Linked DNA regions of Homo sapiens: regions 1, 2 and 4 are each linked to region 3. The links come from fine-mapping of genetic effects on gene expression. A gene starts in region 3. Each other region holds a variant in brackets. All regions are shown on one strand. Distances are between the middles of the regions.

Evidence for each region. PIP is the estimated chance that this variant, and not a neighbour inherited with it, causes the effect.
Region 1: its variant is fine-mapped to the expression of RAB11FIP3 in whole blood (TOPMed, PIP 0.93).
Region 2: its variant is fine-mapped to the expression of RAB11FIP3 in whole blood (INTERVAL, PIP above 0.99).
Region 4: its variant is fine-mapped to the expression of RAB11FIP3 in whole blood (TOPMed, PIP above 0.99).

The regions. Positions count from the first base shown.
Region 1 is chr16:466,541-474,065 of GRCh38, reverse strand. RAB11FIP3 (RAB11 family interacting protein 3) reads right to left here. Exons shown (of 14, transcript NM_014700.4): 3 at 2,677-2,771. Among named protein-coding and RNA genes, the nearest start is that of RAB11FIP3, 45 kb to the right of the region's middle. RefSeq lists enhancers at 6,568-7,196, 7,197-7,525. The variant G/A (reference allele first, on the strand shown) is at 3,984.
Region 2 is chr16:275,159-282,683 of GRCh38, reverse strand. It overlaps ARHGDIG (Rho GDP dissociation inhibitor gamma), which reads right to left and starts at 2,093. Exons shown (of 6, transcript NM_001176.4): 1 at 1,931-2,093; 2 at 759-938; 3 at 576-659; 4 at 311-387; 5 at 154-217; 6 at 1-69. The coding sequence starts at 2,003. It overlaps RGS11 (regulator of G protein signaling 11), which reads left to right and starts at 6,740. Exons shown (of 17, transcript NM_183337.3): 1 at 6,740-6,835; 2 at 7,186-7,282; 3 at 7,351-7,401. The coding sequence starts at 6,773. RefSeq lists enhancers at 1,195-1,952, 6,824-7,475. The variant T/AT (reference allele first, on the strand shown) is at 4,519.
Region 3 is chr16:422,453-429,977 of GRCh38, reverse strand. It overlaps RAB11FIP3 (RAB11 family interacting protein 3), which reads right to left and starts at 4,329. Exons shown (of 14, transcript NM_014700.4): 1 at 3,258-4,329. The coding sequence starts at 3,971.
Region 4 is chr16:488,822-496,346 of GRCh38, reverse strand. RAB11FIP3 (RAB11 family interacting protein 3) reads right to left here. Exons shown (of 14, transcript NM_014700.4): 5 at 7,347-7,496. It overlaps LOC107987417 (a long non-coding RNA gene), which reads left to right and starts at 2,807. Exons shown (of 3, transcript XR_007064933.1): 1 at 2,807-3,778; 2 at 4,022-4,278; 3 at 4,365-4,974. RefSeq lists enhancers at 808-1,385, 1,386-1,964, 3,423-4,044. The variant C/T (reference allele first, on the strand shown) is at 4,574.

The DNA.
Region 1 (7,525 bases), 44 kb before region 3:
CACAGTATCGAACTCCACTTTGTGGAAAATTACATCCCACCCTTAAAAAGCAAAGCAAGACATGGAGGAGAGGTAACTGCGTATTCACTAAGGGAAAGAGGCGCATCTGAAAAGGCTGCATGCCAGATGGTTCTAGCTCCGTGGCGTTCTGGAAGAGGCAGAGCTGTGGAGACACGGAGGATCGGTGGTTGTGGGGGCTGGTGTGAGGGATGAGCCGGCACTGAATCGACTCTGTGACACTATAATCGTGGACCTGTCAAAACACGGAATACACACCACCAAGAGTGAACCCTCAACTACGGACTTTGGCTAATACTAACATATCAGGCTGGGTGCGGTGGCTCACGCCTGTAATACCAGCACTTTAGGAGGCCAAGACGGGTGGATCGCTTGAACTCAGGAGTTTGAGAGCAGCCTAGGCAACACGGTGAAACCCCATCTCTACAAAAAAAAAATACAAAAAATCAGCTGGGCGTGGTGGTTACTGAGTGTGGTCCCAGCCACTGGAAAGGCTGAGAAAGAAGAACACTTGAGCGCAGGAGGCGAAGGTTGTGGTGAGCCAAGATCGAGACTGTACCACCACACTCCAGCCTGAGTAATAGAGCAGACCGTCTCAAACAAAACAAAACAAATAATCATGTAACGTGATCCCGGAATGCTCTACACTATGTTCCATTTTCTGTAAACCTAAAATTGCTCTAAAACATGAAGCATATTCATTTTTTTAAGTCAAAAAACTTTCTTCCATTCTAAAAAAGAAATCAGGATCTAAAAATATGAGAAGGATTAGCTCTGACATGTCAGGTTCCCACCCTTCTGAAGTGACAAGCGTGAGGCTCGGCCACACCCTTCAGACCACGTGGGCCTTTAAGGATAAAATGCACTGGTGCCTTTGGTGCCTCGAGTAACGTCACTCAAGGTTTCCCTGCCCAGGGCTGCCATAACGAACTAGCACAGACCACGGGGCGTGAAGAAACACCAGTTTATCCTCTCAGTTCTGGAGGCCCGAAGTCCAAAGCCAAGGTGTGAGCAGGGCTGGCTCCTGCCTAAGGCTCTCGGAGAGGATGCATCTTTGCCTCTGCTGGCTTCTGGGAGCCCCAGGAGTTCCCTGGCTCTGGTCAGTCTCTGCCCTGTCTTCCTATGGTCTTCCCCCTGTGTGTCTCTCCCGTCTTCCAGGGACACCTGTCACTGGATTTAGGGCCCAAACCAGCATGATATCACCTTGAGATCCTTAATGAACTACATCCGCAAAGACCCTTTTTCCAAATAAGGCCACATCCACAGCTGCTGGGTGGACATATCTTTTGAGAGGCCACTCTTCAGCCACTGCACCATACATAGGATATAAACAATCAACAATGCCCTAACAAACATGAGAGGGGAACAAAAAGACGGATACACGTGAGAAAGAGTGCACAGGCACATGAACGCCCAGGAACACACAGTTCCCCGGACGTTGCAGACCAAGGGCTCTGGGTTACCCTGCAGAGCCTTGGGCATCTCCTCGTGAAGAAGCCGGGTCCTTCTCAGGGCACAGGAGCCACCGTCTGTAGTCCTGGGGTCTCCCAGCACGTTCTGCACACTGCAGCCATGCGAGAGGGTCCAACTCCCACCACACGCCCTCTTAGCCAGCACCTCACTGCTGCCTCACGTGCAGAAAGAGCACACCAAGGCCAAACATGGGACCCACGGTGGGCGCCCTGGCCCCAGAAGCTGCAGCCCAGCTGATAACTGGGACACCGCCGTAAGGCAGAACCACCCCCAGGGTCTGTGTGGGCAGAAGTTAAGCTGCCCACCCAAGGGTGAGGGTGACTAATCCCTGGGGCAGCTTCTCGGAACAGGGAACTGAGTATAATACCATGGCTCCCACGGTACAGTGGCGTCCAAAAGCAACTCAAAAACTACCCTGTGCCAGCCTCAGCTTTCGAGGAGTCAGGGCTCAGAGGACTGACATGAGAAGCCCAGGCCCTACCGGCCAGCAGCTCAGCCCCACTTCTGGTACCCTTGCTCGGCAGCAGGCTGACCAGGACTGGCGGCTGCCACCTCCACCTTCCCGGCGGCCCCCAAGGGCTCAAGTTCAACTTCATGCATTTTCTGCTGCAGCCACGTGGCTCTCCTGGAATCTAACCCTCCAGACCGGCGGACATGGTTACGCTCTGTCGACCACGGCTGTGCTCGAAGACCCTCTCCCCAGCTATGTTGAGAACAAGGGACCCACAGTGACAGGAGACACAGGAGACGCCACGTCACCATGACAACCCTGGCTGCATCTGGGAGCAGGGTGGAGGACAGCCAAGCAGGGGCAGGCATTAGTCAGGCATCCCCAAACACAGAAAATCATTTGCAAGTTGACAAAAGGAATCCTCCCAAGCCCTCTGCTCCGCCTGTGCCTGCCAGCCTGGCAGCGGGTGGTCATGACATCACTGCCCACCCCACTTCTGCTGGCGACAGGCCCTGGGGGAGGATTCCTGCCCAGGCTGACAGGGCGTGTGGGACAGACAACTGTGGGCCTCCCGTCACAGCCACAGAGCCCCACGGTGCACACAGGGCGGGAGGCCCTTCCTTCACGCCAGCTTCTACGGAAGACAGCCCGGAGGCAGGAGGCACGAGCTGTAGGGCATAAAGGAAGAGGTGGATGCCAGACTTCCCCCAAGCTCCTGGGTGAAAACCACTTGCCTCATAGGTGACGAAGTCATCGAACTCGTCCGGGCAGGCCAGGGGCTCCTCATCTTGGGCAGAAGCGACACCACCGTAGCACTGGCCATCAGGATCTGCAGGGAGAAGACCTCGTGCTCAACAGGCCACCCATAGCCACCCAGTGACGGGACCCCTGGCGGCCTCGGGACTCCCTGGGAAGGAGGCCCCCAGGGACAGATGTGTGGGAGTTGGGGGCCCTGGGGGGGGTCAAGACAAGCAAGGGAGTGAGCATGAGAAATCCAGGGAGAGAAAACAGCCTTGCCAACGGGTCAGAGATGCGTTGCCCACAGGAACAAGGCTTCTGGAGAGAATTCTGAGGAGGAGATGCAGAGGTAGGAGATAAACTTTTTATTTCTTAAAAGAAGCAGACAGCACTGCAAAAAAAAAAAGAGCAAGACATTGAGCTCCATAAAACTGTCCATGGCCTTTAAAAAGTGTTAGGTACCAATCAGATTTAAACCTTTAAAAACATTTACATGAGAAGGTGTAGGTATGATGAAATAATACAAAAACAACATCTTTTCCTGGGTGCTGGGTTCACGCGCAGTTTTCATTTTATTTTCTTTTTTTGCTTATCTTCTATAATCAATGTTCTATGAGAAAAACTTTAAAGGAAAAGCTATCTTCTCATGAGAGACAGGCTATAATTCTTACGTCAGCTACAGTCATCACTTTGCAAACACAACCAATCCCGCAGCACCTGCCTCTCCTCCTGTAGGAAAAGGCACTGGCTTCCAGCGTCTCAGTGATATTCACAGGTCAAAGCACCTTCCAGGGCCTGTGAGTGACAGAAGACACTTAGGTGTCTTCACACTGTCTCACTATTAATTCAACTACTTGCCTAAAATAGACCAGCTACTTATAAAATAGCATTACTTAATACCTTTAACACAATCTATTCTAATGTCAATCACTTATTTTAAAAGTGAAGGTTGGGGCCAGGCACGGTGGCCTATGCCTGTAATCCCAGCACTTTGGGAGGCTGAGGCAGGTGGATTGCTTCAGCCCAGGTGATTGAGACCAGCCTGGGCAACATGGTGAAACCCCATCTCCACAAAAATACAAAAATTAGGTCGGGTGCAGTGGCTCACACTCGTAATCCCAGCACTTTGGCAGGCTGAGGCAGGAGGATCATTTGAGGTCAGGAGTTCAAGACCAGCCTGACCAACATGGTGAAACCCCATCTCTACTAAAAATAGTAAAAATTAGCTGGGCATAGTGGCGAACACCTGTAATTTCAGCTAATTGGGAGGCTGAGGCAGGAGAATCACTTGAACCTGGGAGGC[G/A]GATGTTTCAGGGAGCCGAAATCACACCACTCTGCACTCCAGCCTGGGCGACAGAGCAAGACTCCATCTCAAAAAAAAAAGAAAGAAAGAAAAGAAAAGAAAAAAATCAGCTGGACATTGTGGGACACACCTGTAGTCTTAGCTACTCTGAAGGCTTGAGCCAGGGAGGCAGAGGATGCAGTTGGCCAAGACTGCACCACTACATTCCAGCCTGAGTGACAGAGCAAGACCCTGTCTCGAAGAAAAAAGAAAAGTGGAGACCAGGCATGGTGGCTCACACCTGTAATCCCAGCACTTTGGAAGACTGACACTAGAGGATTGCTTAAGTCCAGGAGTTCAAGACTGGCCTGGGCAATATAGCAAAGATCCTATGTCTACAAAAAATAAAGATAAGGCCGGGTGTGGTGGCTCACGCCTGTAATCCTAGCACTTTGGGAGGCCGAGGCGGGCGGATCACTTAAGGTCAGGAGTTCTAGACCATCCCAGCCAACACAGTGAAACCCCATCTCCACAAAAACAATTAGCCAGGTGTGGTGGGGGCATGCCTGTAGTCCCATCTACTCGGGAGGCTGAGGCACAAGAATCACTTGAGCCTGGGAGGTGGAGGCTGCAGTGAGCTGAGATCATGCCACTATACTCCAACCTGGGTGACAAAGTGAGTCCCTGTCTCATAAATACATAAATAATACATTTAAAATAATAAAAAATAGGCCGGGCATGGTGGCTCACGCCTACAATCCCAGCACTTTGGGAGGCTGAGGTGGGCAGATCACGAGTTCAGGAGTTCGAGACCATAGTGGCCAACATGGTGAAAACCCGTCTGTACTAAAAATACAAAAATTAGCTGGGCATGGTGGTATGTGCCTGTAATCCCAGCTACTTGGGAGGGAGGCTGAGGCAGGAGAATAGCTTGAACCGGGACCCGGGAGGCAGAGGTTGCAGTGAACCAAGATCGCGCCACTGCACTCCAGCCTGGGCTACAGCGAGAGTCTGTCTCAAAATAATAATAATAATAATAATAAATTAAAAATTAAATTACATTTTAAAATGCTAACAGTCTTGCCTGCGCTTATAAACACTGAAACACAGAACTAAAAACTTTCAATATACAGCGAAGCATTTTGGACACAGCGCATGACAGCTCAGGTTCTGACAGTGGGCAAACAATCTGAGGGTCTTGCCCCAGAGGGCGGAGCAGGGGATATGAACACAGATGGCATTTTTATATTCTTGGTAGGACCTAAATACCATTCTCATATTAGTTTTCCTTATAAAAACTAAAACAATTTTCAATTAATTAGGAATTTTTCACGTGCGTTTCCCTTATTCTTCCAAAGCGTGAGGGTGTGTGAGACACAGCAATGGCCTATTTGGAACAATCCCTCTCTATCTCATTCTATTCCTGAAACAAGGCCTGTGGCTGTGACAGGAAAGCCTCCTTGTGCTTCCCAGCAAACTAGGCCAGCACATCCTGCTGGTCACTCCTCGACGCAGACAGGGCTGACAGACAACACAGGCTGCTGCAGCCACGATGGAGCTAACACCTGAAGTGAACTTTGGCTGAAGTGCGGTTTGGATGATCACATTTTCCTTTCTTCTAAATGCTATGAAATAATTCCAAAATCATCTTCGACTTCGTTTTATTCTAGTTTCACTCTCCTTCCGAACGAAACATAAATCATGACATCAAATTACTCAAAAGTAAAGCAGACCCCGCAGCCCCAGAGGCCATGTGTCCAATGCCATGGCAGCACCGCCTCCCTGACGCCCCAGGACCTCCTCCTCCCTGACGCCCCTGCACCTCCTCCCTGACTTCCCTGCACCTCCTCCCTGACGCCCCAGCACCTCCTCCCTGACGCCCCAGCACCTCCTCCCTGACTTCCCTGCACCTCCTCCCTGACGCCCCTGCACCTCCTCCCTGAGGCCCCTGCACCTCCTCCCTGAGGCCCCTGCACCTCCTCCCTGAGGCCCCAGCACCTCCTCCCTGACGCCCCTGCACCTCCTCCCTCACTTCCCTGCACCTCCTCCAACGCCCCTGCACCTCCTCCCTGACTTCCCTGCACCTCCTCCAACGCCCCTGCACCTCCTCCCTGAGGCCCCAGCACCTCCTCCCTGACGCCCCAGCACCTCCTCCCTGACGCCCCTGCACCTCCTCCCTGACGCCCCTGCACCTCCTCCCTGAGGCCCCTGCACCTCCTCCCTGACGTCCCAGCACCTCCTCCCTGAGGCCCCAGCACCTCCTCCCTGAGGCCCCTGCACCTCCTCCCTGACGTCCCAGCACCTCCTCCCTGAGGCCCCAGCACCTCCTCCCTGACGCCCCTGCACCTCCTCCCTGAGGCCCCTGCACCTCCTCCCTGAGGCCCCAGCACCTCCTCCCTGACGCCCCTGCACCTCCTCCCTGACGCCCCTGCACCTCCTCCCTGAGGCCCCAGCACCTCCTCCCTGAGGCCCCAGCACCTCCTCCCTGACGCCCCAGCACCTCCTCCCTGAGGCCCCAGCACCTCCTCCCTGACGTCCCAGCACCTCCTCCCTGAGGCCCCTGCACCTCCTCCCTGACGCCCCCGCACCTCCTCCCTGACGCCCCTGCACCTCCTCCCTGACGTCCCAGCACCTCCTCCCTGAGGCCCCTGCACCTCCTCCCTGACGTCCCAGCACCTCCTCCCTGAGGCTACTGCACCTCCTCCCTGACGCCCACTCCACTCTGCAGTCAGCTCTGCAGTCAGCTCAGTGTCCCACCCCTCACACCAGCTCTCAGGGATGCCCCACCATCCTCTTCAGGAGCCTGGAGCTGGAGACAGAATTGTGAGGCCTGCCTCTCACCTGCTCCTTCTGACCCTGCCTCCCTGTGGCCTCCAAACATGCCAGGTGCAGCCCTGCTGGGATGCTGCCTTCCCATCCCAGACGTTCTCAGGGAGGCCTCCCCACTCCTCTGCCTCCCTAGCTCCTGCCTTACTTTGTGGTCTGTCTCCCACTAGAAAGCCAGCTCCCAAGGGCAGGGGTTCTGCACTGCCGTTTCGTGCTACGTCCCAGAGCCTGGAACAGGCTGGTTCGACAGCACTCACGGGCCCGTTGCCCCATGTGTCCCCATCCATGGTCCTCACAGGTGCCAGCCGTGCTCTCCCTCGGCTGCAGCCACCTCCACCAGCCTGGCTCAAGCTCTAATGCAGTGAGATAGGAGAGCCCTGGCCGGCTCACGATGACTAGCTCACCGCCCTCTCAAGCAGACAGGCGCAGGAGCCCTCCCAGGCCCATCTGTCAGCTGCTGGGAAGGAGAACGGGGTGCCCCAGCTGCTGTGGGATTGGCCCAGGTGACAGCAAAGAGAGAAGGGGACGGTGTCTGGGAGAAGGCCCCAGCTTGGCGTGTCAGGTGGCTGGGCAACCACTAAGAAACATCTGGAGATGGGCTGTCCTTGGACGATCACTCTCTCACCCCTTCAGTCACTAAGCCAAGACACCGGCAACCACAGGCAGCCACAGTCCACAGCTGGCAGCCCCCAGGCTTCCCAGACAGAGCATCGGGCTCCTCCGAGGGCAGCAGGCCA
Region 2 (7,525 bases), 150 kb after region 3:
CCGGAGTCACAAACTCATACTCCTGGGCGCTCGGGCCATAGCTGCCCACCATGTAGACGGTCTTGTCCACTAGGGAGGGCGAGGGCATCAGAGCTGTCCTCTGTCTGCCCCCGCTTCCCCCCCCCGCCCCGTTCCCCCCACCGCTGCCCTCACCGCGCAGGCCCCGGCGGTAGGTGTGGTGCAGACACTTGAGGCCGCTGACAATCTCCCTGTGGACCTGGGAACAGAGGCATTAGGGGTTCCTCTGGGGGCCAGGCCTCTGGCTGTTGCCCCCACCCCCATCCCCTCCGCCCATTGCCCCGGCTCTCACCTTGAAGGAGATCTTCACTCTGTAATCAACACCTTCCTTCAGGACAAACACCTGGTCCTTCAGAACAGCCAGGTCCCCTATTGGGGAAACCTCAGCTAGGGTCGGAACTCCCCTACAGGCTGAGACCTGCTCCAGGAGCCCCCACGTAGGGTGTGGTACCCATGAGGTGTGCGACTGTGATGGCCCAGGGCTCGGAACTCAGGGGTGCAGAAGCGTGCCTGGGAGGGCCCTACCTGTGTTCAGGGTGCAGCATCCTGCGAGTTACCTGTGAGATCCATGACGACGGGCCCCGGAGCCTGTTCCGACAGGAGTGTCAGCCTGGTCACCTGCACATTGGGCAGGCTTGGGTCTGAGGAGAAACTGGAAGTCTGCAGGATGCCCCCCACCCCCACCAGGCTCCTCACCAGCCCCCCAGACCCAGCCCTCCAAGCCTAGACCCCTGCCATACCCACGGCCGGTGGCAGGGGCCCCAGCAGCACCCGCTTGTACTTGGCCAGGCTCCTGTCGTCCGGGTCCAGCTGCCGGATCTCCAAGAGGCTCTTCCTCCCCGGCGCCCGGTACTCGGGCACAGCCTCATCCAACACCTCGTCCACTGCCGGCGGCCCACCCTCCTTGTCAGCCAGGAGGACTGGGGGTGGGGAGGGGCGTGAGCAGCAGCCACTAGCGGACCCTGGCATTCGAGCACCAGGCTGGAGCCCCCTCTGGCCAGCTGTACCTCCCACTATCCAAAGGGACTCAAGGGAAGCCTCTGGGGGCTCAGGGAGAGAGCGAGCAGAGAGAGCAGGGCGGCCTGGGGAGGTGCCGCACCGCACCCAGACCTTCAGGAGGGGCCTCCAGAGACCGCCAGGCCTGCAGCTCCTCTGGCCCAGATGTCCACAAGGGCCCCCTCCCTGACTCGGAGACCAAAGGGCGGGGGAGCGAAGACTTCAGATGAGGGCAGCCCAGGGTCAGGGGCTACCTGCTAGAGAGCAGCGGCCCTCGGCGGCCCCCAAACCTACTGACCCTCTAGGGCCCTCGGCGGCCCCCAAACCTACTGACCCTCTAGGGCCCTCGGCGGCCCCCCAAGCCTACTGACCCTCTAGGGCCCTCCACCACCCTGCTCTGGACTGGGGTCTCTGAACACTTTCCCACAGTCTAGGAGTTCCTCCCCATGGTGCTCGGGTGCCGGGGGCGGCTGTCTCCAAATCCCTGGGCTCAGGCTCTGCGCCGCCTCCCATGGCGCCCCGGGCTGGTGGCCTCCTGAAGCCCCTCTCCCTGGTGCCCTGGGCAGGGGTTTCTGAGTCCCTGCCCACTTCGCTCCCGTCTTCTCGGGGATCACCACACGCCCTACAGAGCCTGAGCCCCAGCCCCAGCCCCACCCAAGACAGAGGGGCTCCAGGCGGCGGTGTCCAGGGGGAGAGGGTCCCAGCGCCGCCGCTTCCCAAGCCGACCCGTCCGCACCTGGTCCCTTCCCCACAGGGCTGGAGCCTGGATGAAGTCCCCCACCCCTGCCAGACCCCAGCCGGGGGGTCGGCGCCGCGAGGTCCCCATGCGCGCCCCCAAAGTTGCCGCGGGGGAGGGGCTACTCCCCGCCCGGGGCTGAGACCAGCCGAGCCCCCCGCCCCTGCCCGGCCCGCTCACCTCGGGCGCACAGCGCCAGCCGGAGCAGCTCCAGCAGCTGCGCCCCCAGCTCGCACGCGTCCAGGCCCAGCATGGCGGCGCGCGGCCCGGGCGCCGCGGAGCCGCCGAGGAGCCGCCGCCCGCCCCGCCGCCGCCCCGCTCGGCGCTCAGCCCCGGCGCGACTGCGGTGAGCTCATCCCGGCCGGGAGCGCCCCCCGCGCCCAGCCGCGCCCGGCAGAGAGCCCCCAGCCGCTCCGGACCCCGCGCAGCCCCGCAGAGACGCGCGTGTCGCCCGCACGGGCCGGCACCCGGGTCGCCCCCGCCGGCGTGCCAGGACCCCGCACAGAAGCGCCCGGACGCGGACGCACGCAGCCGCGGTCACGATCCCCGCCGCCCGCCCGGCCCGTGCCCGGCTCTGGCCAGCAGGGCTGCCCCACCCCCACGGCGCGGCGGGAGCCCGAGGGGGTCTCCTGGGAAACCCTCTGCGGGGCGCCGTGGCGCAGGTGCGCCCCCATCCCCAGGGTCTCATTATCCGCGGCCACACCTGGGGCCGGACCGCGCGCCCCCTTCCCCTCCCCCGCTCCTGAGGGAGCTTCTGTCTGGGCCGAGGGGGACTCCGGGGGCCTGCCCAGCCTTGGGGTGAGGGGCTGGCCCAACACCCTACAGGTTCACGGTCATCAGTAGGGCGGGACCACAGTGGGCGCGGGTCGCACGCACACCCAGGAGGCAACAAGGGCCCCTCAAAGGCTTAGCGACCTGGCTGCGCTGTGTGAGTTCCCAAGAGGGGGTGTCCCTGCAGGGCTCTTGGAAACCCAGTTACCGAGCCCCCTGTCCTCAGGGAGAGGACACTGACAAGGGGGCGGAGTACAGAGACCGGAGCACAGAGGGGGCTTCTGATATTGACACCTAAACTGAGACCTGTGGGTGGGTGGGGGGGATGGGACCCGGCAGGGGACAGGGGTGAGCAGGCCCTGGCTGGGACAGCTGGACCAAAGGCCTGCGTCTGGATAAGGGAGAAGGGGTCCGAACACCAGCCTGAGTCCCTTTCTTAGACACCCCTGGCCGGTTCCAGGGACACCAGAAATTAGACCCGCCCTTGCCAAAGAGCTCCTCAATTGAGAGAAGACCACCTTGGGTGCTAGGGGGCATTGGGGTTTGGGTGGGGACTGTCTCCCTTGCCCCCCAACTGCCCACAACCTTTCCAGGGCAGGATCCTATGAACTTGTGCCCAGGCCCCCCTAGAGCGCCACCTCTGCTGACCCTTCGCTGCAGGGAGCGGGGGCTGTTAGGACACTTGTCCCCAGGCCCACAGCTCCAGCTCCTGCAGCTGTTACCAGATAGAAGGTCTTGGAGGTGAGTTGTCCAGGTTCTTGGTGGGTTGAACAAAGAATTGAACAAAACGCACAAAGTAACAAAAGAACAACGAAACACAAGGAAACAAAACTGAGTCAGAAGAACGGAGTAAGGAAAGCACAGATTTAACGGAAGGCAATTCACAGAGTGGGAGTGGGCTGGAGCAAGTAGCTCCAGAGCCTCTGTAATTAGGATTTTTATTAAGCAAAGAAACCTGACCACAGCCCTTGTGCCCTTTAGAGGCCTCCAATTGGCTACACCCTATGAAGGATTGGCCCGAGACCAATCAGAGGTGAAGTGGAAATTTCTGTCTTGTTATCACAGCAGCCAGGATGTGGCTTGTGAGCTGCCCAATCCTGCCTAGAACTGGCTGCACCTGCTGTTCCGTTTCTTATGCCCAACCCTTGGCTACCCTCATTCCCTATTCTGCCTCACAGCTACCATGGGTGCCCACCCCTGCAGACAGGGCAGCCAGACCTGGGCCACCTCACCCCACCTGGGTGTGGGGCATGGGAGGGCTCACTGGGATCCAAGCGAGATGGTACCCTGGAGTAAGAGACCCCACAAGCCCCCTGCCCCAGCTCATGCTGAACGTGGCCTCTCCGGCAATGGAAATGGACTCAGACCACTATGTTAGGGGCTCCCAGCCCAAGGCCAACCGCCCACCCTGCCCAGCCCCTAGCACCCTCTGAGTGGGTAAGGATGGGGAGAGGTACTCTGCCTCCAAGAAAGCAGAAATAGACCAGATGCGGTGGTACACATCTGTAGTCCCAGCTACTCAGGACGCTGGGGTGGGAGAATCACTTGAGCTCAGGAGTTTGAGGCTGCAATGAGTTTATGATTGCACCACTGCACTCCAGCCTGGGTGACAGAATGAGACTGCCATCTCTCAAAAAATAAATACATAGCCAGGTGCCATGGCTCATGCCTGTAATCCCAACATTTGGGAGGCTGAGGCAGGAGGATCACTTGAGGCCAGGAGTTCAAGATCAGCCAGCCTAGGCAACACAGCAAGAAACTGAGGCCCTTACAGACAGGGATAAGCGAGGGGCTACGTGTATATTTATCTACAAAAATAAAAATGAAATTAAAAAAAAAATTAGTGGCCAGGTGCGGTGGCTCATGCCTGTAATCCCAGCACTTTGGGAGGCCAAGGCAGGTGGATCACTTGAGGTCAGGAAGTTTGATACCAGCCTGGCCAACACGGTGAAACCCCATCTCTACTAAAAATGCAAAAAAAAAAACAAAAAAAAAAA[T/AT]TAGCCGGGCATGGTGGCGCATGCCTCTGATCCCACCTACTTGGGAGCTGAGGCAAGAGAATCGCTTGAACCCAGGAGGCGGAGGTTGCAGTGACCCGAGATTGCACCATTGCACTCCAGCCTAGGCAACAAGAGTGAAACTCCATCTCAAAATAAATAAATAAATAATTTAAAAAATAAAGAAAGCAAGCAGAAATAGATGCATTTGCACCTTTTAAAAATGGTGCTGAGGCTGGGCTCGGTGGCTCAGGCCTGTAATCCCAGCACTTCGGGAGGCCGAGGTGGGCAGATCGCCTAAGGTCAGGAGTTCAAGACCAGCCTGGCCAACAAGGTGAAATGCTGTCTCTACTAAAAATACAAAAATTAGCCAAGCGTGGTGGCGGGGGCCTGTAATCTCAGCTACTCAGGAGGCTGAGGCAGGAGAATTGCTTGAATCTGGGAGGAGGAGGTTGCAGTGAGACGAGATTGCGCCATTGCACTCCAGCCTGACAGAGCAAGACTCAGTCTCAAAAAAAAAAAAAAAAAAAAGATGCTGGCTGGGCATGCCTTTAATCCCAGCACGCTGGGAAGCTGAGGCAGGAGGATGGACTGAGCCCAGGAGTTTGTGACCACCTTGGGCAACATAGTGAGACCTCGACTTAGTTTTTAAAAAATGATCCGACCGGGTGTGGTGGCTCACACCTGTCATCCCAGAACTTTGGGAGGCCAAGGCAGGTGGATCACCTGAAGTCAGGAGTTTGAGACCAGCCTGGCCAACATGGTGAAACCCCATCTCTACTAAACATACCAAAATCGGCCAGGCACAGTGGCTCACACCTATAAGCCTAGCACTTTGGGAGGCCAAGGCAGGCACATCACCTGAGGTCAGGAGTTCGAAACCAGCCTGGCCAACGTGGTGAATCCCTATCTCTACTAAAAATACAAAAATTAGCTGGGTGTGGTGGCGCGTGCCTGTAATCCCAGCTACCTAGGAGGCTGAGACAGGAGAATCGCTGGAACCCAGGAGGCGGAGGCTGCAGTGAGCCAAGACCGCATCACTGCACTCCAGCTTGGGTGACACAGTGAGACTCCGTCTCAAAAACAAAAACAAAAATAAAAATTAGCCAGGCGTGGTGGTGGGAGCCTGTAATCCCAGCTACTCAGGAGGCTGAGGCATGAGAATTGCTTGAATTCAGGAGGCGGAGGTTGCAGTGAGCCGAGACTGCCCGGTGGGGCCTGAAGATCCTGGGCCTGGCTCGGGGTGCACCTGGGGGACAGGCATAGCCATTGGAGGAGGGAGAGAGCTGGGAGTGGAGTGGGGCCTGAAGCCTGGCGGCCGCCGGTGACACTAAGTGGGTGTGTGTTGAGGGCCTCCCTGCAGTAAAGCTCCTCTCCAACAGTGTCAGGGTGCCCTGGGCAGGGTTTCTGCTCATTCCCCAGCGGGCCACCCAGGCCTGCGTGGAGCTGAGGGAAGTGAGCCATGAGCCATCAGCCACTTTCCCGGAAGGACCCCGGATAAGGGACCCACAGCAGGAGATGGGGACAGCTGGGTCACACTCTGCAGCAGCCACGTGCTCCACTGACAGCCGGCATCCGGCCCATGTAGAAAGCTGACCCAATCTCTCATGCACCCTGCCCCTAACCAGCCACCGTCACAGCAATGTATGCAGTCTTGGCCACAAGCATCGCAGGACACAAGGCCTCGGGCAGTCATACCGCTGGCCCTGGCCCCGGCCCCACAGCCAGGCCTCTAGTCCCTGTATGTCCTCAGGGCCCCACACATAGGACCGGGGTTACAGTGGGCCCTAAACCACGTTTCCCACCCCAGTTCACTCTCCCTACGGGTCTCCTCTACTCACGGAACCCCTCTCCCTCTCTGAACCCCCATCCCCTCCGCTGCCCTCCCTGAGACCCTCCCCATAGTAACCCCCCCTCGCTGATGAGCCCCTCTGCCTCTCCCAGAGACCACCCCCTGCTCCAGCTGAGCTCCATCCCCTCACATCCCCCCTCGGCCCCCGGCCCACACCCTCCCCCGTCCCACTTCGCCTTCACCCACGAGGGCCTCAGCGTCCCGGGACCTGGGTCGGGGGGGTGACTCGGGTCGCTCGTGGGGGGCCGGCTCGTTTGCCTCTGGGCCGTGGCCGTGTCTCTTAAAACCCGAACCGGGGCCTGGGCGACTCTGGCCTCGCGGCCCGAGGGTTAACCCGGGCGCGGCGCGGCGCGGGGCGGGGCCGGGCGGGACGTCGGTCATCCCCGCCGGCCTCGCCCCGCAGCCATGGCCGCCGGCCCCGCGCCGCCCCCCGGCCGCCCCCGGGCGCAGATGCCGCATCTGAGGAAGGTGCGAGGCGGGTGGGTGTCCCGCCGTCCCCCGATTTCCCGGCGCCCGAGGCCGGGAGGGGCCGGAGAGCATGGGGACACGGGGGCGCGCGGGGCGGGGCGGGCCTGGGGCGGAGGTCTGCGAGGCCGGGAGGGGCGGCGAGGCCTGGGGCCCTTGGGGGTCTCCGGGGTCTCCCCGGCCCTCCCCGGCCCTCCCCGGCCCGCCCCGCGTCCCCGCCGCCAGCTGCGGCCTGGAATCCGCCGCCGCCGCGCGTTAATCTCCGCGCTCCCGGATCCGGGGCATCCCGGCCGGTGCCAGGGAATCAGGGTTGCGGGGCGGCCAGACACCCCCTGACGACTCCCTCCGCCCAGATGGAGCGGGTGGTCGTGAGCATGCAGGACCCCGACCAGGGCGTGAAGATGCGGAGCCAGCGCCTGCTGGTCACCGTCATTCCCCACGCGGTGACAGGTGAGGCGCGCCGGGGCGGGGGTGCGTGCGCGCCTCGGCCTCCCTCCACCTCTGTCTCTCCCGTGCAGGCAGCGACGTCGTGCAGTGGTTGGCCCAGAAGTTCTGCGTCTCGGAGGAGGGTGAGCGCCCTGCCTCCCACTGGGCCCTGGGGTCACTGGGCTGGTGGCCTAGGCCTGGGTTTTCCTGGAGTCTGGCAGTTCTCAGAGCCCTGCTGAGCGCGCTGTGCAAGGGTGGGGAGCACAT
Region 3 (7,525 bases):
CACCATGACATTGCTAAAGAAACAGGGACACAAAAGCCATCTGTATTATAAACAGGAGCTGCTTCTATTAAAAATTCAGATAATCCATTTAAATAATTTAAAATGCTACCTTCATAAACAGATTACATAGAAGATACTCAATATGCTACCTCTGAAAATTTGATAAAAATTAAGATACTTGGCCGGGCACAGTGGCTCATGCCTGTAATCCCAGCACTTTGGGAGGCCGAGGCGGGTGGATCACCTGAGGTCAAGAGTTCAAGACCAGCCTGGCCAACATGGCAAAACCGTCTCTACTAAAAATACAAAAAATAGCCAGGTGTGGTGACGGGCACCGGTAATCCCAGCTACTCGGGAGGCTGAAGCAGGAGAATCGCTTGAACCCGGGAGGCAGAGGTTGCAGTGAGCCGAGATCACACCATTGCACTCCAGCCTGGGCGACAGAGCAGGCGAGACTCCATCTCAAAAAAAAAAAAAAATTAAGATAATCTAGTTGTTATCATCAAGGACAGTAATGTGACTGGACTAAGAGTCTCTCATGTGCTCAATATTTTGAAATCTCAAGGTAGAAAGTACAAAAACTTATGACCTTTATTGCTGTTATCCAGTTAATCTGAACTGTTCCCTAGCGTTTTTAAAAAAATCATTAATGTCTTTAAAAGAATCGGTATCTTTTGGAAATATATACTGAAGCATTTATGGAAGAAATGATATAATGTCAGGAACCCACTTCAAAAATCATCTGGGGGTAGTGAGTGGTGAGTTTACAGATGAACCAAGACTGCTAAAACTGAGCAATGGCTACAGGGTTACATAACATGAAAATCAACCTTTCTTTACCCTGTAAATTATCTGTTGCCAAACAGTAACTTAGCTTTAAGAAATCAAGAGCTCTCCTCCATCCCAGGAAGCCGGCCCAAGTCCAGGCACTCAGATCACACCCAACATTGCTTCTTCCTAAGCCGTCTAGAAGAACAGACAAGGAGTAATACCACAGGAGATCCCTTCCACTTCCCCATCCTCACCAAATCCCAAGTCATCCAGCCCTTGCCCCCAACCTTCGAATTTCATCAAGAGCTCTTGGAATTCAGAGTGAAGAATTTTGTCTCATTTCTACTTTGTGATGACAAGAAAGCTCAGCCCCAAATAGCAACACAAAGTTTTTCCCATTGTGATCATTAAGGGAGGTTATGACAAAAGATGTTTCTCAAATAAAAAGAATTGTATGAAAGTCAGTAAGATATTATCACAATAGGGATATTGTGAGCCACCACATCTAAGAAGAGGCATCTAAGGTCTAAGGGCCAAAAGACCTAGTTCTACTCCTGTGAGACCTTGGGAGAGCTATCTGACCTTTCTGGGTTTCCAGTTTCTTACCTGTAAAGTGGGGATGAATCCTGCTTACCTACTATCTCAGAGAACTGTGGTATGATCCAGTGGAAACATCCTGAGCCTCACAGAAGTTCTCTATCAAGAGTTGGGTTATGGTAACAAGGAGCAAATGTGGTACTCTCCTAACTTCTTTGCTGTACTGAAGCAAGAGTATGTTTGGGAGAAGAGACAGCGCAGTAGCCAACAGCAACCAAGGGAGCTCAAGGTGCTCTCCAGCCCAGGGGCAAGAAGGAAACGCAGCAAAACACCTGGACCAGCAACCACCATCCACGCTGACCATACAGGAAAGTATCAGTCACATATTTCACTGCCCATTAGTGTAGGTGGAAAACTACCCTGACAATATCCCAACCGGAGCTAAGCTTGCGAGCATTGCAGGCTGCCCCGCACGCACCTGTCTGCACATCTTCTTAATGTGAACTCAGCAAGGAACCCTGATTTATCAGGACCCTGTGTTTTTTGTTTTGTTGCTGTTTTTTTTTTTTGAGACGAAGTCTCGCTCTGTCGCCCAGGCTGGAGTGCAGTGGCGCGATCTCCGCTCACTGCAAGCTCCGCCTCCCGGGTTCACGCCATTCTCCTGCCTCAGCCTCCCGAGTAGCTAGGAGTACAGGTGCCCGCCACCACGCCCGACTAATTTTTTTGTATTTTTTAGTGGAGACGGGGTTTCACCATATTAGCCAGGATGGTCTCAATCTCCTGACCTCGTGATCCGCCCGCCTCGGCCTCCTAAAGTGCTGGGATTACAGGCATGAGCCACCGCGCCCGACCATCAAGGTTCTTAATGTTATGACTGACACCCTAAATAGCAGTGTGCCAATTTTACCTCTTTTCTTACAGACCTCTTGGCTTAAACATGCATATGTACTTGAACACCCACTTACCAGATGTCTGCATGTGTGAGAAGTCAAAATACAAAAAATTGACAGATGCACCTTAGGGATTTCCTGCTAAGTAAAATATTTAAAAGTGAGCACTGGTATTATTTGATGTCCACCGGGTTATTGGCAGAACACACACGGCCCTGCTGTTATCTCCACTTAAACTTTATTAAGTGCTGAGGTAGACAGGAACAACTGCATCTTGGGGCCCACCTTTCCCCCAGGAGCAGGTGCCCTGAGGACCGCGTGGACCCCTTCCACACTGTACTGTGCGTAGTGCCTGTCCACGCATTTCACCTCTCCTACGAGAGTGGACGTGGCCCTAACGGAGTTCTGCTAGACTTCTGCATTTGCCAACAAGCTCCGAGGCTCATTGCCTTCCTCCCCAAAGGCACCAAAGTAAAAATTCTTAATTCCAGGACTCTCTACAAGCATTGACTGTCTCCCAAATAAAAGATGAAATCTAAGTAGAAAAGATGTCAACCACACACAGTAAAGTAATTGTACTCAAAATAGGTGTCTATCAGTAGGATCTCAAGGCGTCTGGGCAGCCTGGCCTCTGCGGCTAGAACTTGGGTGAATTCAGCCGAGCAGTATCTGGGCCCTCGGGTGGGGGAATCGCGGGGAACTTCTTCATTCAGGGGCACGTCGATCAGGCACCCTGGGGGGGTGGCGATCAGGCCCCCTGGGGGGGTGTCCCCAGGCGAGGAGCTGACCTCGGTAAGATCCAGCTGACGAGGCGCTGGGGGGAGGGGAAGAAACTGACTCCCCAGAATAGAACCTCCTTTTAAGAAGGGAAGAGGGACTCCAGCGCAATTCAACCAGAAATCCAGGGCCGAAGTGGTGAATAAGCAGAAAAAGCAGGACCGTCAGGTCTTGACAGTGCCTTTCCCGACTCCAGGGGCAGCGTCGACCGGTCCCACATCAACCCCGCCGGCCAGCGCGCACCTGCCCAGTTCCCACGCCCCGGCCCGGGCCGCTCCGTACCTGCTCTGCCCCGTAGACCGTAGCAAACTGGATGAAGTCCTCGATGCGGACGAAACCGTCCCCATCCCCGTCCAGGGCATCGAACACGGCTCGGAGGCGGGGGCCGTCCTCCTGACTCCCCACGGGCTCGCTCGGAAGGGGGTGGGTCTGGCTGAGGTCCGAGGGCTGCGGCGGGGACCCGGGACCTTGCTCCAGCGCCAGCTCGCCCGCCGTGGGCGCGGGGAAGGGAGAGAAGACGTCGACCTCGCCCCGCGCTCGGTGGCTGCTGCTGGACCCCTGCAAGCGGAAAGGCGCGCTCTCCGGGCAGCTCGCGGGGCCACACTCCTCGGGCTCCTCAGTCCAGGAGAACAACGGGTCGAGTTCTGGAAGCGGCGCTTCGGAGCGCGGCCCTGGGCCCGGGGCGTCGGGGCTCGCAAGCTGCCCCCGCGGGCCGGAGCGCGGCGGCGGGGCGGACGGCCCGGGGTCTCGCGGGCCTCCCTCCAGCCCCGGGGCCGGCCCGGCGCTCCAACGCGCCCCGCCATCTGCAGCGGCCCCGGGCGCAGGCTCATCCAGGCCCGGGGACTGCGGGTCGGGGCCGCCGACGGGCGCTCCGAGGCGTAGCTCCGCAGGGCCCGGAGCCAGTTGTGCCGCCCCCGGCCCGTCCGGCCCGCCCGGCTCCGGGTCGGGCCCCGGCGGCTCCGAGCCCGGGGGCGAGGCCGGCGGGGCCGACGCCATGCTCCCGAGAGGCTAGTGGTGCGGAAGGGCGCGGGCGGCAGACAAAGGCGCTCAGGGCGCGGCGGCGGGCGCGGGCATCCCCTCGGCGGCGCGGGCGGGCGCGCGCGGGGCGCCCGGGCTGCTGGGGCTGGCGCTCGGGCCCTGCTCTGTCCTCGCCCATCTTCGCACCGCGCCTCAGCTGCCCTCGGCCCGGCGGCGCGGCGGGCGCAGGCCCATGGCGGCGGGGCGGCCTAGGGAGGGCGGCGAGGATCCGGGCGGCGGATGGCGGGGGACGGGGGCCGAGGAGGCCGGGGGACGGGGGCCGAGGAGGCCGGAGGCCGCGGAGCCTGTGAAGCAGGATGAGGAGACTAAGGAGGCTGAGGCGCCTGAGGTACCCGGAGAACTAACGCCGCCGCCGCCCAGGCCCCGCCCCCCGTCGGGCCTGACGTCAGCACGTCCCGGCGGGGTCCCAGCCCCTCGCCGGCTTGCTGTAGAGGCAGGCGCCGGGTGTGTCGCGGCAGTGCAGCGGCCGCGAAGGGGTGTTTTGCTGTATGTCATATTCCTCGTTTCGCCAGAGCGGGGGTCCCGAGCTTCGGGCGCGGGACGCGGGGGTGCTCCGAGGCTGCGAGTGGAGGCGTGACGTGACGTCCCTGGCAAGAGGCGCGCGGAGTCAGGCCTTACTTAGAACGTGTTCCCGCCGCACAGCTACCAGCGGGCGCGACCGCTACCCACGCATGGTGCGGTCGAGTAAACGGCACCGCCTGGCGAGCGAGAGACGCAAAGGGACATAGCCCCCTAGGAGCTGAGCTCTTCGGGGGTAAAGCGTTCTCACGTTGATGAGACCAGGAGGCGGCGCACGCCTGGCTCCGCGGCCCAGGGGTTGCAGGTGCCCCAGGGTTCGCGGGGCGCAGACGCCGCAGAGGGCGACGCCCTGCCCGGGTCCCGCGCGGACCCGGGGGACGCAGGGTCTGACACGGAGTGCGGAGGGGCCCCAGACACGCAGTCCATGTCCCTTGAAACCAGAGGCACGCGCGGCCACGCGCTAGGCCTTTCCCTTAAGCCTGTGACCAAGATCTCCGGGACTCCCAGCGTTGGGACGGGCGCGCTGGCCCACGCCCAAGCGGGAGGATCGCTTGCGCCCAGGAGATTGAGACCAGCCTGAGCACCAAAGCGAGACCTCGTCTCTACAAAAAATAAGACTCAAGAAGACACCCAGGGTGAATCGCCCGTCTGCAGCCAGCCTCCCGAGCACCGTGGCCGCGTCTGACAACTGACCTCTGTGTCTGGGTGTCCCTGTCCTCAGAGGGACACGGGACCTCAGAAAGGACCACAGCCCGGCGGCAGGCATGATGGTGGGAAAGCTAGTTAGGACAGGTGAGGCACTAAATTTAGCCTGTCATAATTTGTATCAGGGAAATGATGAACTTGTATTTTTACACACCATGGGCACCAACACAAGATATGGTTTCGTAAGCAGCTTTGGCAAGAACCAAAGGAACGGAACCTCTGCTTCCAAGTGTACGGTCAGGAGCAGCGTGTTAATTAAGTGAGTCATCTTCCGTGGCAGAATCCCAGGGTACATGGGACCAGACTTCGCGAGGCTGGCATTAGGAAAAGGAATGTGAGGGATCCTCCTCCCCAAACCGTATTCTCATTTTCTTGTAAGAGCTGTACGTGTTCATGAGGAAGATACTGCATTCAAAGAACGAAATCACCAGCAGCTTTGGCAAGAATTCAAATTTGGGCTGATGCCTTCGGCCGGATAAAATTTTCAGAAGCAGTGATAGTGATGTGTCAACCTTTCTAAATAGGGGTGTTAGTGTGGGCGAGGCAGAGACAGCAGGCTCCCTCTGCTTTTATGTGCCGGCGCTGCCAGAGGCAGAAGGCTGGCTTTCTGAGAGCAGGGGCCCGCACGCTCTGTCTGTGCTAGGGCTGGAAAACGTCCATTGCGTGCCCGGCTGGTGTCCTCCATGGAACCACAGCCTGGAAGCCTGCACCTCCCTGCCTGGACCAGTTAGAGGCTGTTCATGAAAGACTAAAGGGACAAGTTCCCGTCTATCCGTCTGCTGTTCAGAGCTACTATCTGTGTCCCCTTTGTAGGCTGTGGGCTGTAGCAGTTCCTTCTTTTCTTTTCTTTTCTTTTTTTTCCCCGAGACAGGGTTTTGCTCTGTTGCCCAGGCTGCAGTGCAGTGGTGCGACCATAGCTCACGGCAGCCTCAACCTCCTAGGCTCAAGAGATCCTCCCACCTTAGGCCAGGTGTGGTAGCTCATGCCTGTAATCCCAGGACTGTGGGAGGCTGAGGCGGGCGGATCACGAGGTCAGAAAATGGAGACCATCCTGGCTAACACGGTGAAACCCCGTCTCTACTAAAAATACAAAAAAACAAAAATTAGCCAGGTGTGGTGGCAGGCACCTGTAGTCCCAGCTATTTGGGAGGCTGAGGCAGGAGAAAGGCGTGAACCCGGGAGGCAGAGCTTGCAGCGAGCCAAGATTGCACCATTGCACTCCAGCCTGGATGATAGAGCAAGACTCCGTCTCCAAAATAAAAAATAAAAATAGAAGAGAGATCCTCCCACCTCAGCCTCTCCAGTAGCTGAGACCACAGATCTGCAGCACCTTATTATCTTTTTTTTTTTTTTGATATGGAGTCTCACTCTGTCGCCCAGGCTGGAGTGCAATGGCGCGATCTCTGGTCACTGCAACCTCCGCCTCCCGGGTTCAAGTGATTCCCCTACCTCAGCCTCCTGAGTAGCTGGGATTACAGGCGTATGCCACCAAGGCCGGCTAATTTTTTGTATTTTTAGTAGAGACCGGGGTTTCACCATGTTGGTCAAGCTGGTCTCAAACTCCTGACCTCAAGTGATCCGCCCACCTCGGCCTCCCAAAGTGCTGGGATTATTGGCATGAGTCACCACACTTGGCCTCAACATGCGTTTTGGAGGGTATAAACATTCAAAGCATAGCCTCCATCTTCTCACTCTGTCCTCACATGTTGGAGAAAGATTGTCTCTTTTGGGCTGGGCGTGGGAGCTCATGCCTGTAATTCCAGCACTTTGGGAGGCCGAGGCGGGTGGATCACGAGGTCAGGAGTTCAAGACCAGCCTGGCCAAGATGGTGAAACCCCGTATCTACTAAAAAATAGAAAATTTAGGCCGGGCGCGGTTGCTCAGCCTATAATCCCAGCACTTTGGGAGGCAAGGTGGGCGGATCACAAGGTCAAGAGATCGAAAACATCCTGGCAAACATGGTGAAACCCTGTCTCTACTAAAAATACAAAAATTAGCCGGGTGTGGTGGCACCCACCTGTAGTCCCAGCTACTCGGGAGCCTGAGGGAGGAGAATCGCTTGAACCTGGGAGGCAGAGGTTGCAGTGAGCGAAGATCGCACCACTGCACTCCAGCCTGGCGACAGAGCGAGACTCCACCTAAAAAATATATGTATATATTAGCCGGCCGTGGTGGCGGGCACCTGTAATCCCAGCTACTCAGGAGGCTGAGGCAAAGAATTGCTTGAACCCGGGAGGTGGAGGTTGCAGTGAGTCAAGATCACACCACTGTACTGCAGCCTGGGTGAT
Region 4 (7,525 bases), 66 kb before region 3:
CCGTTGCCATTTCAGGGCAGTAAATATAGCCAATTATACATCAGCTGTCTGATTTAACCATCTGCAGTGGCACATGGGCCAAACTTACCTTCTCCCTCATTTCTGAGGTCCAAAGTTGTATTTTACAGTCTAGCTGCTGAACTATTAGCCTCAGCCTGCAGGAAGACACCCTCACCCCTGGGGCCTGGGAACCATCACGGTCCTGGAACTCACAAAGCCACGTCTCTCTTCAGCTTACCTGTCTCAAAAACACCTCTGATTTTCTTTCCAGGGTCAGGCAGAAAAGTCTACTGGAGGGGCCGGGCGTGGTGGCTCATGCCTACAATCTGAGCACTTTGGGAGGCTGAGGCGGGTGGATCTCCAGAGGTCGGGAGTTCGAGACCAGCCTGGCCAACGTGGAGAAACCCTGTCTCTACTAAAAATTCAAAAATAACCGGGAATGGTGGCGCATGCCTGTAATCCCAGCTACTCGGGAGGCTGGGACAGGAGACTCGCTTGAACCCGGGAGGCAGAGGTTGCAGTCAGCCGAGATCACGCCACTGCACTCCAGCCTGGGCAACAAAGAGTGAAACTCTGTCTCAAAGAAAAAAAGAAATCTACTGGAGGAGAATCAGCTGCTGTGCCAGGTATTAACGTAGAGCCCCTCAGCTCTAAGTCCATCCTTTTTACTTGCCCTGTAGAAACAGAGCTGGGCCCTTAGCAGGCTCTTCCTCCACAATGCTGCGTGTCATCAGCAGAGGGAGCCGAGGAGTGAACACAGCAGGAAGAGGTTTGCCTCCTGGTTCTGACCACTCTCTGCAGGGCCCTCCGACACCTGCAGTCTCCCCAGTACCTACTCCAGGGAGCATCCTGCCCACTGTAGCCAGAGCCAGGGGCTTCCCCGACCCCATTCGGGTAGCTGTTCTCTAGGGGTGCCTCTGCCAAGTGTCCTGCAACAGAATAGCTTTCCTGGCAGCCAGGAGGCAGGTTCCCCACAAGCCCTGACAGCACGGTGGTGTCCCCACCACGCCGTTTGCAGCTGGTGCAGACCTCAGCCCTGGGTGGCAGTGACTGTAGCTGGGGGGCTCTGCCCCGGCCCTGGGTGGCGGCTGCTCCTGTGCCTGCTGTCCCTACACTCTGCAGAGTTCTTTTTACTCATCCCAACCAGTGCCTCATTACTCCCATAGCCTGTGACATTCTTTTCCTTTCCCTAATGATTTTTTAAATTTTTTGTTTGTTTGTTTGCATTATCTTTTCTTAGAGGCAAGGTATGACTCTGTGGCCCAGGCTGAAGTGCAGTGGTGCAACCACAGCTCGCTGCAGCCTCGACCTCCCCGGCTCATGTGATCCTCCCACCTCTGCAGCCTCGACCTCCCCGGCTCATGTGATCCTCCCACCTCAGCAGCCTCGACCTCCCCGGCTCATGTGATCCTCCCACCTCAGCAGCCTCGACCTCCCCGGCTCATGTGATCCTCCCACCTCTGCAGCCTCGACCTCCCCGGCTCATGTGATCCTCCCACCTCTGCAGCCTCGACCTCCCAGGCTCATGTGATCCTCCCACCTCTGCAGCCTCGACCTCCCCGGCTCATGTGATCCTCCCACCTCAGCCTCCCAAAGCACTGCGATTTCAGCCCACACTCAGCCCATTCTTTGTAGTATTAAACTGTCCCTGTTCAAATTACTGTGTGGCTCTCCTTTCTCGACTGGAGACTAATAATGTATATTTTAATACAGGTTTTTTTTTTTAAGATGGAGTCTCACTGTGTCACCCAGGCTGGAGTGCAGTGGCATGATCTCGGCTCACTGCAAGTTCCACCTCCCGGGTTCACGCCATTCTCCGGCCTCAGCCTCCCGAGTAGCTGGGACTACAGGCGCCCGCCACCACGCCCGGCTAATTTTTTATATTTTTAGTAGAGATGGGGTTTCACCGTGTTAGCCAGGATGGTCTCGATCTCCTGACCTCGTGATCTGCCCACCTCAGCCTCGCAAAGTGCTGGGATTACGGGCATGAGCCACCGCACCCAGCCTTAATACAAATTTAATTTTATCTTATTATTGTTGAGACTCCCTAGAACTAATAGGACAGGACAGACTCATCGTTCAGTTTACCTACTGACCTTTCAGGGCCTGGACTGGCAGCCCAGCAACAGGATTTATAATTGAAAATACACCTCCAGGTGGCCAGGTGCGGTGGCTCACACCTGTAATCCCAGCACTTTGGGAGGCCGAGGCGGGCGGATCACGAGGTCCGGAGATTGAGACATGGTGAAACCCTGTGTCTACTAAAAATACAAAAGTTAGCCAGGTGTGGTGATGGGCGCCTGTAGTCCCAGCTACTCGGGAGGCTGAGGCAGGAGAATGGAGTGAACCCGGGAGGCAGAGGTTGCAGTGAGCCGAGATCGCACCACCGCACTCCAGCCTGGGTGACAGATCGAGACTCTGTCTCAAAAAAGAAAAAGATAATATACCTCCAGGCAGGCTGGGTGCAGTGGCTCAGCCTGTAATCCCAGCACTTTGGGGGGTCAAGGCGGGCGGATCACGAGGTCCGGAGATTGAGACATGGTGAAACCCCGTGTCTACTAAAAATACAAAAGTTAGCCAGGTGTGGTGATGGGCGCCTGTAGTCCCAGCTACTCGGGAGGCTGAGGCAGGAGAATGGAGTGAACCCGGGAGGCAGAGGTTGCAGTGAGCCGAGATCGCACCACTGCACTCCGGCCTGGGTCACAAAGCGAGACTCTGTCTCAAAAAAAAGAAAAAAGAAAATATACCTCCAGGTAAGGCACACTTCTTAGTTCCTACAAAATGAAATGTATTTAGAGGCTGCAGGGTACCTGGAAAATGCAACAGCTATTGGCCTGTTCTGAGGCGACTGGACATCGTATCTGACATCAAAGCTTCCAGAGGTGGTCTGGACTAAGTCACCTGTTGCCACCCACAAAGCATGACCAAATAAGCTTACTTTCAGGCAAGTCCATGGAAACTAAAACGCAAGATTCAGATCTCCTCCACTAAGGGTTATGGGGAGGATGTTCTGACTGGCAGTTGTGTGTCCTGATTGTGTTGAATTGAATAGCATATTAACCACTTGGTAGAGTCTTTTTTTTTTTTTTTTTTTTGGAGTCAGAGTTTGGCTCTGTTGCCCAGGCTGGAGTGCAGTGGCAGGATGTTGGCTCACCACAGCCTCCACCTCCTGGGTTCAAGTGAACCTCCCATCTCAGCCTCCCAAGTAGCTGGAACTACAGGCATGTGCCACCATGCCTGGCTAATTTTTATGTTTTTAGTAGAGACAGGGTTTCGCCATGTTGGCCAGGCTGGTCTCAAACTCCTGGCCTCAAGTGATCTGCCTGCCTCCTCAGCCTCCCAAAATGCTGAGATTACAGGCGTGAGTCACTGCGCCTGGCCCGCTTCATAGAGTCTTAGGAAAAGGGGTAGCAGAACCTGGACGTGAGGCTCCACAGGACTTGCTAGTTGTACTTAGCTACATCCTAGTCCCTTCTCTGCCCCCACAAAGCCCAGCAGAGGCGACCATGGCCATCTTGGAGCTAGTTCTCAATGTGGGAAAAAATCAGTTCTATGTCAAAAATCTTCAGAAAATGAGAGACGAGACCTGAGTCTTCAGGCTTACTTTCATGTACGGAGATGACATGCTTGCACTCAACTTATCGGTGAGTGGGAGGGCAAGTCTCTGCGTGGGAAGAACAAATGGCCCCTCCCCAAGCAGGCTGAGCCATCGTCGCCGGGCCTTGAACCCCTAGCTGAACACACACGCAGGCAGAAACTGATTTCCCCTAAAACAGAGGTTAGCGGATCTTTGGAATCCAAGATTCTGGACGGCCTCGGGTCTCCCGGGAGGGCCCTGGGCGGCCTCGGGTCTCCCGGGAGGGCCCTGGGCGGCCTCGGGTCTCCCCGGGAAGGGCCCTGGGCGGCCTCGGGTCTCCCGGGGAGGGCCCTGGGCGGCCTCGGGTCTCCCGGGGAGGGCTCTGGGCGGCCTCGGGTCTCCCGGGAAGACCCTCTTCAAAGAGCACTTCTGCTTTCTCACCAGTGCTGCCAAGACCCCCGATGCTCCAGAATGGCCATCAGTGCCGGGCCCCACCCCCATCCTCTCCACCTGAATGGGCACTGGCTGGGGGCCCTGTGCTTCACAGCATTTCACAGAACATAAGAAGAGTTAAGTGCCCTGGAAATGGAACTAGAGGCAGGACAGAAGCCTCAATAAGGCCGTGGGCAGTGAGCGCCCGCCAGCAAGGATGTGCCTCGGCAGAAGCCCCCTGGGGCAGGGACAGGGCAGGCTCAAGACAGGTAAGCAGTTTCACAGATACCTCTAAACATGCTAGAACCGTCAGGATAACTCACCTTTCTGCCACCTTTACAAACCCTCCCCACAGGCCAGGTCCCGTTCTTCAGGAAGCCGTCCCAGATTGCCAGCATGAGCCTGTATGCTCACTCACCTCTTCTGCTAGGCTAGGGCTGCTGTGGAAAGCTCCAAAGTGGCCCGTTTCTTCACCAGACCCTTCTGGAGAGCTGCCCACCCAGGGGCTTCACCGCAAGCGAAATCAACACGATGCCCAACGGGCACGTCAATATGTGCAAAGCA[C/T]TCAAAACCGTCTTCTGTAACTGGGAGTTAGACATGAGGGCCAGCCACAAGAGCTCCCCTGCTGAGACACAGTGAGCTCCCTCACACGCTCACTGTGAGTATTCAAAACTCCATTTAAACTGACAATCCTGAAAGCTGTTTACATATCTGTTCTTAAAGACTAAATCTTTAACTTTCCCAATTCTGTCTCATGAGCTCAATGAAAGAAATCTTTTAGTAAAATGCAGAAAGTATCCTCTTTCACACACAGGACAGACAGCACAGCTTGCAAAGACCGATCACTTCCTCCCACCAAGACAAGCACTGGCCTGGGCTGCGCATGCAGGGGAGGAGGCAGGGCCCTGGTGGCCCCACAGCGTGCAGGGTGGGAGGCGGGGCCCCAGGGAGAGTCCCGCTGCCTGAGAGGCTCCTGGTCGCCTCGGGGCAGGCCCTCAAGGGGGCTGTGGGTATCCGGAGTCCCCCACACCCTGGGAACAGACAGCAAGGCCAGGCGCTGGTCAGTTACCTATTCATTTCAAGATCACTCAGGCGGGCAGAAAGATCCTCAAGGCGGTTGATTTGTTTGTGGCACTGGCTACAGTAAAACTCAAACGCCTCATCAGTGAGGATGCTGTGCAGCTTTGCGGCAAGAGGGTCAGTGCTAGAGAGACAGAAGCATCCGTTCAGGAGAGGATGAGGACCCGTGTGGTCATCTGTGACTCCGCACGAGGGGCCGAGGGGAACAGGACAGGACATGGTGTGGAACAAAAGCACGTGGAGAGAGAATGAGCTGTGCAATGTTCTGGCTCTTGCCTTTAGACCGCAGTGAGCCCACATCCCTCAGCTGCCTCCAGGAGCCCAGGACAGGCACCAGCTCGAGCCTCAGGGGGCCCTGCACACACCTGCTCCTCTGGGTCGGGTGCCCAGAAGAAAGCAGGGGCAGCCTGAGAGCCTCCTTGCAAAGCAAAAGCCCTTCTTTAACAAGAAGGTAAAAAACCATACTGCTTTCTCTTTTGCCAAAAACACATCAATGTGATAGCGAACCATGTCTCCGGGTAAACTTGTACTTACTGTACTATATTTATGATTACTCCAAAAACCACCTCTAGCAAAAACTATGCATGAATGATAAATCTACAATAGTTTTGTGATTTTTTAAGATGTGCGTTAAAGCCGGGCATGGTGGCTCCTGCTTCTAATTCCAGCACTTTGGGTGGATCGCTTGAGCTCAGGCGTTTGAGACCAGCCTGGGCAACATGGTGAACCCGTCTCTACAAAAAATACAAAATTAGCCCGGCGTAGTAGCTCATACCTGTAGTCCCAGCTACTCAGGAAGCTGAGGGAGGTGGAGGCTGCAGTGAGCCATGATTGCACCACTCCAGCCTGGGCAATAAAGTGAGATCCTGTCTCAAAAAACCCCCAAAAAGACCGACCTGTCGAAACTCAGTGTTAGATTTTGTGGTGGTGCTAGCTAACCTCCCTGTGACTTCACCTCCAAGGGCTTCTGGGCCACTGGCAGGGGTGCTGCGTCTGCGACGCGAAGGCAAAGGAGCAAAGGCAGCCTCATCGCGGGCGCTGGGACCCACATGCTGTGGGAAACCATTTGGAAGCTCAAGTAAAGAAAGGTGAAAAGTGAAACATACAATGTAGCATAGACATTACACTTCAAACAGGTAACAATGAAAACACTGAACAGGAGACAGGGACAAACTAAACACGTAGGAAGAGGTGATTACCAAGCACAGAGACCCAAGTTTAGAAACGCCCCAGTCCTCTGGCCCTTGTCTTGACACCACCACGCGCTGGGAGAGGAAAGTGCCTAAGACAAGCACACTGCCTCTGAGGACCGTCTGTGATGCCTCACTCATGCACAGCTCTCCCAGGACGCTCGCCGGGACCAGAGCACACAGGATATCCGTGCAGGGTCCCCACACCCAGGGCTGACGGGCGGCTTCAAGGAGGGCACATGGGAAACAAAAGGAGGGGGACCCTATGGGCAGACGAGCTGCTCAGCCCCTCCTGCACCGCCCTCCACCCAGGTTCCCTGGGCCTCAGTAACAGCGGGCGGGCAGCAGGCAAGGGAAGACTCTTGTGGCTGCTTAAAGAGGCTCGGCCTTGACTGCTGGCAAAGATGGACGACAACCTAGTAGCAAAGGGGAGAAGGGATTGAAGTAACAACCCCATCGGCCAGCCCAGGGTCTCCCTGAAGTCAGGAGCGTCCTAGAGGGACTGACTCCCACGTGGGAGCCCCTAGCCCTCAGAAGTACGTACCCAGACCCCCATGTTCGGATCCAAGCCAAGAGGACTCTGGACTCCCTAGAGTGACTCTGGACATTTGTGAGTGGGCATCTCGCCCACTGCGTGTTGTGCTTCTATTTATTCAGAGTCACAGCTTTCCAGTTTGGGGATGTCAGATATTTATAAGGAAATGAATCTGAAGACTCACTTATGATCATGAGGCCTCCCTCAAAAGCCTGCACAGACCACCATGTGATCCACGGCCCACAGCAAAGGAGCCCGCAAGCCAAGTGTGCAAACACAGCTCTGTGCCACAGGATTTTGCTGAAGCCTCAGAAATGTAGAGTGATCTGGGGATGTGGCTGGAGAAGAGGGACTTCTCCCAACTTTCATAAATCCAGGTATAAATTTAAAATGTTTGAATATGGTTTACTTAATCACATGACGTCAAGGAAAGCAAGTTCTCTCACCAATGCACGAACCAAAAAGGGAAACTTCCCACTACTAACCACGGGAAGAAGAGGGAGGAGGGTGTGCTGGAACAAGGCGTCATTACCTGGGCGTGAGGAAAGCGGGGTCACTGCAGCCCAGCTGCCCGTTGCATAGGGTCTCTGGGGACAGCTCCGCCTCACTGCCTTCACCGTAGTCCTCAAAGTGCTCCTCGCCCCCGATCACCGTGATGACAGACTGGCCATGGGGGTGAGGCCTGCAAAGTAAAACAGAAATGATGTCTTC